2 linked regions of the Homo sapiens genome follow. The protein of the gene in region 1 purifies or fractionates together with the protein of each later gene. This does not show direct contact. Each region holds a gene or a part of one and is shown on either strand. Other genes may lie near its edges.

Region 1 (4,039 bases):
GTGAGTCGAGTTCGCGCCACTGCACTCCAGCCTGGGCTACAGACCAAGACTCCGTCTCAAAAAAAAGAAAGAAAGAAAAAAAAAGACTTGAGCCCTCAGGCCGGGCGTGGAGGCTCATGCCTGTAATCCTAGCACTTTGGGAGGTCGAGGCGGGTGGATCACCTGAGGTCAGGAGTTTGAGACCAGCCTGGCCAACATGGTGAAACCCAATCTCTACTAAAAATACAAAATCAGTCAGGCGTGGTGGTGGGCGCCTGTAATCGCAGCTACTCAGGAGGCTGAGGCAAGAGAATCACTTGAACCAGGGAGGCAGAGGTTGCAGTGAGCCGAGATCGCAGCACTGTACTCCAGCCTGGGTGACAGAGTGAAATTCTGCCAAAAAAAAAAAGACTAGAGCCCTCCTACATAAAAAAAAAAAAAAAAAATGGAGACAGGGTCTTGCTCTGTAGCCCAGGCTGGAGTGCATGGTGCAATCATAGCTCACTGCAGCCTTTACCTCCTGTGCTCAAGGGATCCTCCCACCTCAGTGTCCTGAGTAGCTGGGACTATAGGTGTATGCCACCATACCCGGTTCATTTTTTATTTTATTTTAGTTTGTATTTTTGTAGAGATGGGGTCCTGCTATGCTGTCCAGGCTGGCTTTGAATTCCTGGCCTTAAGTGATCCTTGTGTCTCCACCTCCCAAAGTGGTATTACCAACGTCAGGCACCATGCCTGGCCTTAGAGTCCTATTTGAATTTGGGGACCCTCTTGGGACTGGGCTATTATTTAGGTCTGGAGGCACAGTCAGGTCTGGGGACCCTGGCATCCTACCCGGTCCTCGCGGCTGCCTGTCTCCTCTTCTTCAGGACCTCGTGAACTGGAGCCGTCGCTGCTGCCAGGGATTCGCATCAGGTTCTTTTGCTCGGAGAAAGAGGCTGAGGCTGACAAACAGCGACCGGTGGAGTTAAGCGATGGGCGGGGTCACAATGTGTGCAGACCAATAAGCGGGAAGAGAGAGGACTGGGAACCAATGAGGCTGATTGGGTAGGGCTGTTGGAAACCAATAAGAATCATTCCCACCGAGGAGTGTGACCCTGGGAAGGCCTAGTTAGGGCTTAAGGAGGGAACCAGAACGTGAAGGAGAGCTAAGCCCTGTGCAGAGCTGGAAATGGGACTGGAGCCAAGGCCCAAGGCCAGGTCAGGTCACTGGGCAGGCAGGGCGCGTGTGGGGCTGGGGCCTCGGGAGCCGGGGCGGGGCTCAGGCACTAACCCTTGCTGTGGCGCCAGCAGCAGAGGGCCACCCCAGTGATGACCATAAGGAGAGTTGTGGTGGCAGCGGCCACTCCGGCCACTATCCGCACAGTGGGCAGCAAGTCTGCAGGGAGCAGAGGGGACATCCTGAGAAGGCTGAGGGGGAACCAGGAAGCGGGGGCTCAGGGATTGAGTTTGGGATTCCTGGGTTCAAAAGGTCGCACATTTGAAGATTCAAAGGCCCTTGAATTTGGGGTTCCCCAAGTTTGAGAGTGAGTTTAAACTCCCTGGCTTTAGGGAGTCTTAGAATTTGAGGGGTCCTTTACTTTGCAATTTGCTTTGCAATCATTGGAGTTTCCCTTTTTGGGGCCCCTAGGTGTGAGGAGTCTCTCAGTTTAGGATTCAGAATGTGAAGGCATTTGTGGTTGAGGGGTGTCTTGGGAATCAATGAGCCCACAGTTTTGAGACTCCCGAGGTTTGGAGGTCTCCTCTGCATTTGAGGGTATGAGGTTTTGCAGCCCTCGGCTGGGGGATCCCTGCGTTTGTGGGGTTTAGACTCTCCAGATTTGGGGTCTTCGGGCTGGGGTCTCACCTCTACGGCCCAGGCTGGCCTGGGCACCTCCCTCGCCCAGCCGGTTCCGGGCACTGCAGTTAAAGCTCCTGCTAAAGTCAGACTCCTGGGTCCCCGAAATGTGTAGCACAGAGATCAGGCCCGGACCCAGTCCCCCGCGGCTCTCTGGGGCAGGGAATGTCTCCACCAGGAACCGGCCCTGCGACCCCGCCTCCAGGAAGCCCTCATCCCAAGACCAGACCTGGGGGCACAAAAGAGGGAGGACACGGAGGAGACTGAGGAGGGGAGGAAGAAGCAGGAGGGATGTCTGGGAAGTCAGAAATGGTCACAGTAGTTTCGGGGGGCCAGGTGGGAGGTCAGGGATCACGGCTGGATGGGTCACGGGAGGAGTGACATTTCCTTACCACGGCATCTGGGGCGGGAGAGGCGAAAACCAGACACTGGAGGCGAGCAGGGCCCCTCAGGAAGGCAGGCGCAGAGTGCAGGGCGGTCACTACTGGGGGAGCTGGGATGGAGACTGTAGGTCACTCAGAGGAGAGGTCTTGCCCTCCCCAAAGGCTGTAACAAAGCCGGGTCTGTCCAGCGCACTCTCCGCTAACCTCAATCAATCAGGCCACGCCGCCTCCAAACTCCGATTCTCCTAAAAGCCTCGCCTTCAATAGGTCCGGTCTCCAGCCCCCGCTGGGTGTAAAGCTCCTTCCAGGCCACTCCCACTGCATTAGCCCTTGCCCCCTCTGTCCGCTCCCTATCCCAGGACGGGCCAGGTCCCCTAGGAAGCCCCGCCTTCTCACCGTTCACAGTCAGCCGAGCCTCCGCGGCGCCGCCCCGCAGGCCCGATAGCCCAGCCTCAGCTCTGCACACATAGTCGCCTGCGTCCTCGGGCCCCACCGACGGAAGACGCAGTGTGGCTCCAGAGCCCAGCACCTGCGACAGGGAAGGGGCGTCAGAAGCCGGATTTGTAAGGAAGCCTGGTCCCCCTCCAGCCACCGCCTCAGATTTAGGGCTGTACCTGCGCGCCACCGCGGCGGGTCCAGGTTACCCGTGGAAGCGGGTTCCCGCGCCAGGCGCAGCTGAAGGAAGCGTCTTCCCCCACGTCCACGGACACGGGCTCCGGCTTTGCCTGCAGAATCGGCCCAACTGGACGAAAGAGACTAGGGGTCACATGGCCGGGGCGGAATGCAGCCACTGACCTGGGATCAGCCAGCCCCACAGAAACACCACACCCTCTAGGGCGCAAGAATATGCCCCAGCTCCACACTCTCCTCCTCCTAATACCCCACGCTCGCTCTCCCGGCCCCGCCCCTCCAGGCCCCGACCCTCAACAGCCCTGAAAGCCACGGCCACCTTTGACCACACCCACAGGCCGGCCCCAGCTCACACAGCACATCCAGCGCAGTACTGCGGTTGGCGCTACCCACGGCGTTGCTGACCTCGCAGGACACGGGCTCAGTCAGGAACGAGGCGTCTGCCACGACCTCTAACCTTGGCCCGCGGGCCCCGAGCACCGGAGAGCCCCCTTTTGCCCACCTGAGGAAATGGTGGCGCTGTTAACGTTGTCCTGGCCTCTCTGGCACACCTACTCAGGTCCCAGCCCTTCCCAAGCTCACTCTTGGGGCTGGGGAGAGGTGGGTCTTCGTCCTCACCTGTAGCCTGTGACAGGAGGCTGGGCTGTGGCCTGGCACAGGAAAATGACCTTCTCTCCCTCCTGCACAGTGTGTGGCGAAGCAGACAGAGTCACCTCTGGGGGGTCTGTGAGGGTGGGACAATGGTCAGATGGGCAAGGACCAGGAACACCTCCGTCACTGGCCTAGGTGTCCAGTCCCTGGTTCCTCCATCCCAGGAGTCTGGGCCCCTAATCCCCTTCTCCCTTTGAGCCAGGAGTCTGGGCTTTCAGTTCCCAATTTCCCCAGTTACCTCAATGTGCCAGCCTTCTGCCCTCTCCTAGTCTCCCCGATGTGAGAGTCAAGGCCCAGCTTTCTCTTTCCCCAGGGACCCCAGCTGTCTGTCCTCTCCTGCTCGGAGTCTCACTCTGCTGCTGAGTGGCATGATCTCGGCTCACCGCAACATCTGCCTCCCGGGTACAAGTGATTCTCCTGCCTCAGCCTCCCAGGTAGCTGGAATTACAAGTGTGTGCTACCACGCCCGGCAAATTTTTGTATTTTTAGTAGAGACGGGGTTTCGACATGTTAGCCAGACTGGTCTCGAACTCCTGATCTTAGATGATCCGCCTGCCTC
Region 2 (4,039 bases), on another chromosome or scaffold:
CAGCCTGGGCAACATAGTGAGACCTCATCTCTACCAAAAACAAAAGAAAATACACCAATTGTGTATTGGTAAAGAACAAGAAAATCCATGTTGTTTTAGTTTAGTTAGAAAGGAAAAGGCTGTCAAGATGTTATATAAAGATAATACTGAGGGGGGTTGTGTTAGGATAATTAAAACCCAATTCATATCATGGACGCTAAGAAGAGTTTTCAATTAACTCTTGGGTTTTCCTTTGCATGTTTTTAATCTTAATGATGTCAAGTTTACAGAGGAAAATAAAGAATTGTAACGCACACTCATGTCCCCATGTAACCATGCAGGGCGCTGGGGCTAAGGAAGGTCAGGAATCATGTCTCATTTGTTTTCTACCTTTCTCTTTTCTACTTTTCTATTTCTTTTTCTTTTTTTTTTTTTTTTTTTTGAAACTGAGTCTCGCTCTGTCACCAGGCTGGAGTGCAGTGGCACGATCTTGGCTCACTGAAACCTCCAACTCCCTGTCTCAAGCGATTCTCCTGCCTCAGCCTCCCAAGTAGCTGGGATTACAGGCACATGTCACCACGCCCAGCTCATTTTTGTATTTTTAGTAGAGACAGGGTTTCACCATGTTGGTCAGGATGGTCTCGATCTCCTAACCTTATCATCCGCCCGCCTCGGCCTCCTTAAGTGCTGGTATTACAGGCGTGAGCCACCATGCCCGGCCTTCTCTTGCTCTTAATACAGATTTCTATACACATTAGCAGTTCAATAAATGTTCAACAACTGCAAAAAAATAAGTGTCTAATCACATTAAATAAGTTCTTAACTGAATTTCTTACCCCCACCCCCACAAAAGACTCTCTTGTGCTAAAGAAGCATAGGTTGGTTTAAATAACAACAGAAAAACAAAAACTAAACTGCTCTGAATGGTACCAGATGAGAGTACTAACAGACGAGTCTTGGCTCATTTCAATTACATGACCCTGCCATATCTATTTTCCTATGACATGAGAACCACACAGCCAGTCCTCTATTTACAGTTATTGCATGAGTAAATCAGTATATATTTACATGGTAACTATTATGAGCAAGCTATTGGGAAAGATAAAGTAGTTTATTTACCTCCCTAATCTCCACCACCCACAGCAACAACATACTATGTGCAAGGCCCTGATTTAAGCAGTTTACTGCAAGGTGTACAATCTCATCGAAAAATCTTGGTGCCAGATGTGTTTCTGAATTTAGAAATGTCCAGACCTTTAGACAGGAAATATACTTTATATACCATATGTTATGTAATACACCATTAGGGTCTATGGTGCAACCCCATAAACATATTAGTAATTCTATAGCAAAACAAAATAAAGATCAACATTAAGTAGAATAAAGACTATAAATACCCTATGTCAGTTTAAGTCAGGTTTTGCCACCACATGAGTTTTGGCATCTAAGTTACCAAATAAAATCTTTTTCAGTTTTCAGAGCTTTAGAAATTTAAAAATTGCAAACAAATTGTGGGCCTAGGCCGGGGGAGGTGGTTCATGCCTGCAATCCCAGCACTTTGGGAGCCCGAGGTGGGTGGATCACCTGAGGTCAAGAGTTTGAAACCAGCCTCGCCAACATGGTGAAACCCTGTCTCCACTAAAAATAAAAAGTTAGGCCGGGAGCAGTGGCTCACGCCTGTAATCCCAACACTTTGGGAGGCCGAGGCAGGTGGATCACGAGGTCAGAAGATCGAGACCATCCTGGCTAACATGGTGAAACCCTGTCTCTACTAAAAATACAAAAAACTAGCCTGGCGTGGTGGCACGCACCTGTAGTCCCAGCTACTCGGGAGGCTGAGGTAGGAGAACCGCTTGAACCCAGGAGGCGGAGGTTGCAGTGAGCCGGGATCATGCCACTGCACTCCAGCCTGAACGATAGAGTGAGAGAGCGAGACTCCGTCTAAAAAAAAGAAAAAGAAAAAGAGAAAAGAAAAAGTGGGCCTAGCTAATTCATGTAATCTTTGCAAGTACCATAAGAGGCAAGTTCTATTACCCCTTTTTTACATATGAGATAACTGAGGTACAGGGAGGTTTACTGACTCACCCAGTGTCTCACAACTATTAAGTCTCCTAGCTGGAATTGAAACCTAGGTGGCCTAGCTCCAGAGCTTGAGCTCTTAACAAGTATGCTCTACAACCTCTCTCAGAAACCACTTCGGAACACCAAACACGTGAAAAGTAAAACAGTATTAAATGATCTAACATCAAAAAATTAATAGGAGAAACATCACAAGACAGTATTTATTCATTATTCAATAACTATTTATAAAGTGCATACCATGTGCTGGGTGCTCAGAATACAACAATGAGCAAACCGGATGAGGTCTAGGTCGCCTTCATGAAGCCAGAGGCAAGTGGGGAGATGGCCAGGCATCAAATAAGCATAATTATGACACAACAGGGCAAGTGTGTGACTGCTGTTCACCTTCAGAGGGGGAGATCTAGTTCAATGGGGAATAGTGTAATAGGACCTGGAATTTGAAATGACAAAAAAGAAAGGCATGGCATCCATTTGACAAGCACCCACTGTGCACGTACTCTATGCCAGGAATAATGCTAAGCACAAAAGTTCCAAACTGGGGAAAATCAGTTTAAACCAATAGAGATTTGTGAAAGGGAATAATAAGGACATATGGGAAAGTAGGCTGGGATCAAATCAAGTTGACCCTGCAGGCACTGATGAAGGTTATTTTGCAGGTTATTCCCCCACAATATTAGGATTTACTCCTATGGAATGTCAATAATCATCTGCATTCCTATTTGGGACCAACTAGACCTCAAAGCTGGATTGCTTTCAAGGAAGGGCTTAGGGCAATAAATTCATTTAAGCCTCAGGAAACACAGTAACCCTAATCTCTCAAGGAATAAAGGTATGGCCATTTGAAAATGTTGGAGAGGCAACAGGTAAAAGAAAATGATAAGCCCTTCTTAAAATTCCAAAGGCCCTTTCTAAAACCTAGGTTATTCCTTTATACAAAATAAAATTTCCAACCTTCCAAAGGAAACATATTTCCATGAGAAAATAAGATATCATTCTTTGAAAAATAAATTCTTAAGTTGAACAATGATCTGATTTTTAATAAAGTTGGTGACAACTTACCTTGTAGCACAAGTCACAATGTGACAGTGGAAAGTAAACTGCCTTTTAACATACTCACCTCAGGGTTCCCATTCCCCCATCCCCTTACCTAAACAGAGTAGAGGAACCGAATTACATGATTATTTAGCATACTGATCATAGAGTTTTTTTTATTCTCAGGTATTAATATAAATGACTGAATGAGTAGACATTCTATTTATCCTCTGCAAAACATTTTTTTTTAAATTTCCCTGGATAATTTTTTTAAGCCAATGACCTTCCCCAGGAAAGACTCTTCAGTGGCTTCCTATTGTTCTGAGAATCAAACCCAAATTCTTTCTCAGGACCTCCAAGTCCTATTTATCGGTTATTGAGCTGCTTCTAGGCTCTGTAACATCTTCTTTAATCCGCCATGCTGGCTTGCTTTCTGCTCTTCAAAAACGCCAAGTCTCTTTTTCCCCCCTCAAGGCCTTGGCTCTTACTCTTCTCTCTGCAAGAATGTTATCTCGGGAATGTTCTCCCAGATCCTGACAAGGTAGGCCTATTCTCTCTTCTCTTTCAGGTCTCTGCTCAATCATCTTCTCTGAAAGGCCTTTTCTGACTTCCCACACTAAAGTAGGCCCTTCCTAGCTATCTGTATCATATTCCCCTACTTATTTTCATTGCTCTTACTACAGTCTATAAGGATCTTCTTCATTTGTTTGCTCGTTTATTGTCTGTATTCTCTGGTAGAATATAAGCACTGTGATACTCCACAAGAGCAAAGATCATGCCTTATAAGGTTTATCATTGTGCCTAACACAGGGCCTTGGCACACAAGTACCCAGTAGATTTTGTAAAATGAATTAGTAAATGAATGAATGATACATAAAAACCTGATTGTTATGAATATCAGTAACTTGAGAAAGCCATTTTTATAATTTTGAGATATTTTCTCTAG

What was found. The genes of interacting proteins can lie anywhere in the genome.
Region 2: the proteins of KIRREL2 (region 1) and KLHL13 purify together in Homo sapiens (affinity purification with mass spectrometry; one large-scale study listed by BioGRID and IntAct). This does not show direct contact.

Annotation. Positions count from the first base shown.
Region 1 is NC_000019.10:35,859,811-35,863,849, reverse strand, and holds part of KIRREL2 (kin of IRRE-like protein 2 isoform c precursor), read right to left. Parts: intron 3,554-4,039; coding exon 3,448-3,553; intron 3,332-3,447; coding exon 3,183-3,331; intron 2,942-3,182; coding exon 2,814-2,941; intron 2,729-2,813; coding exon 2,596-2,728; intron 2,310-2,595; coding exon 2,209-2,309; intron 2,046-2,208; coding exon 1,826-2,045; intron 1,358-1,825; coding exon 1,253-1,357; intron 936-1,252; exon of another isoform or gene 924-935; coding exon 814-923; intron 1-813. UniProt on the Homo sapiens protein: May regulate basal insulin secretion.
Region 2 is NC_000023.11:118,109,977-118,114,015, forward strand, and holds part of KLHL13 (kelch-like protein 13), read right to left. Parts: intron 1-4,039. UniProt on the Homo sapiens protein: Substrate-specific adapter of a BCR (BTB-CUL3-RBX1) E3 ubiquitin-protein ligase complex required for mitotic progression and cytokinesis.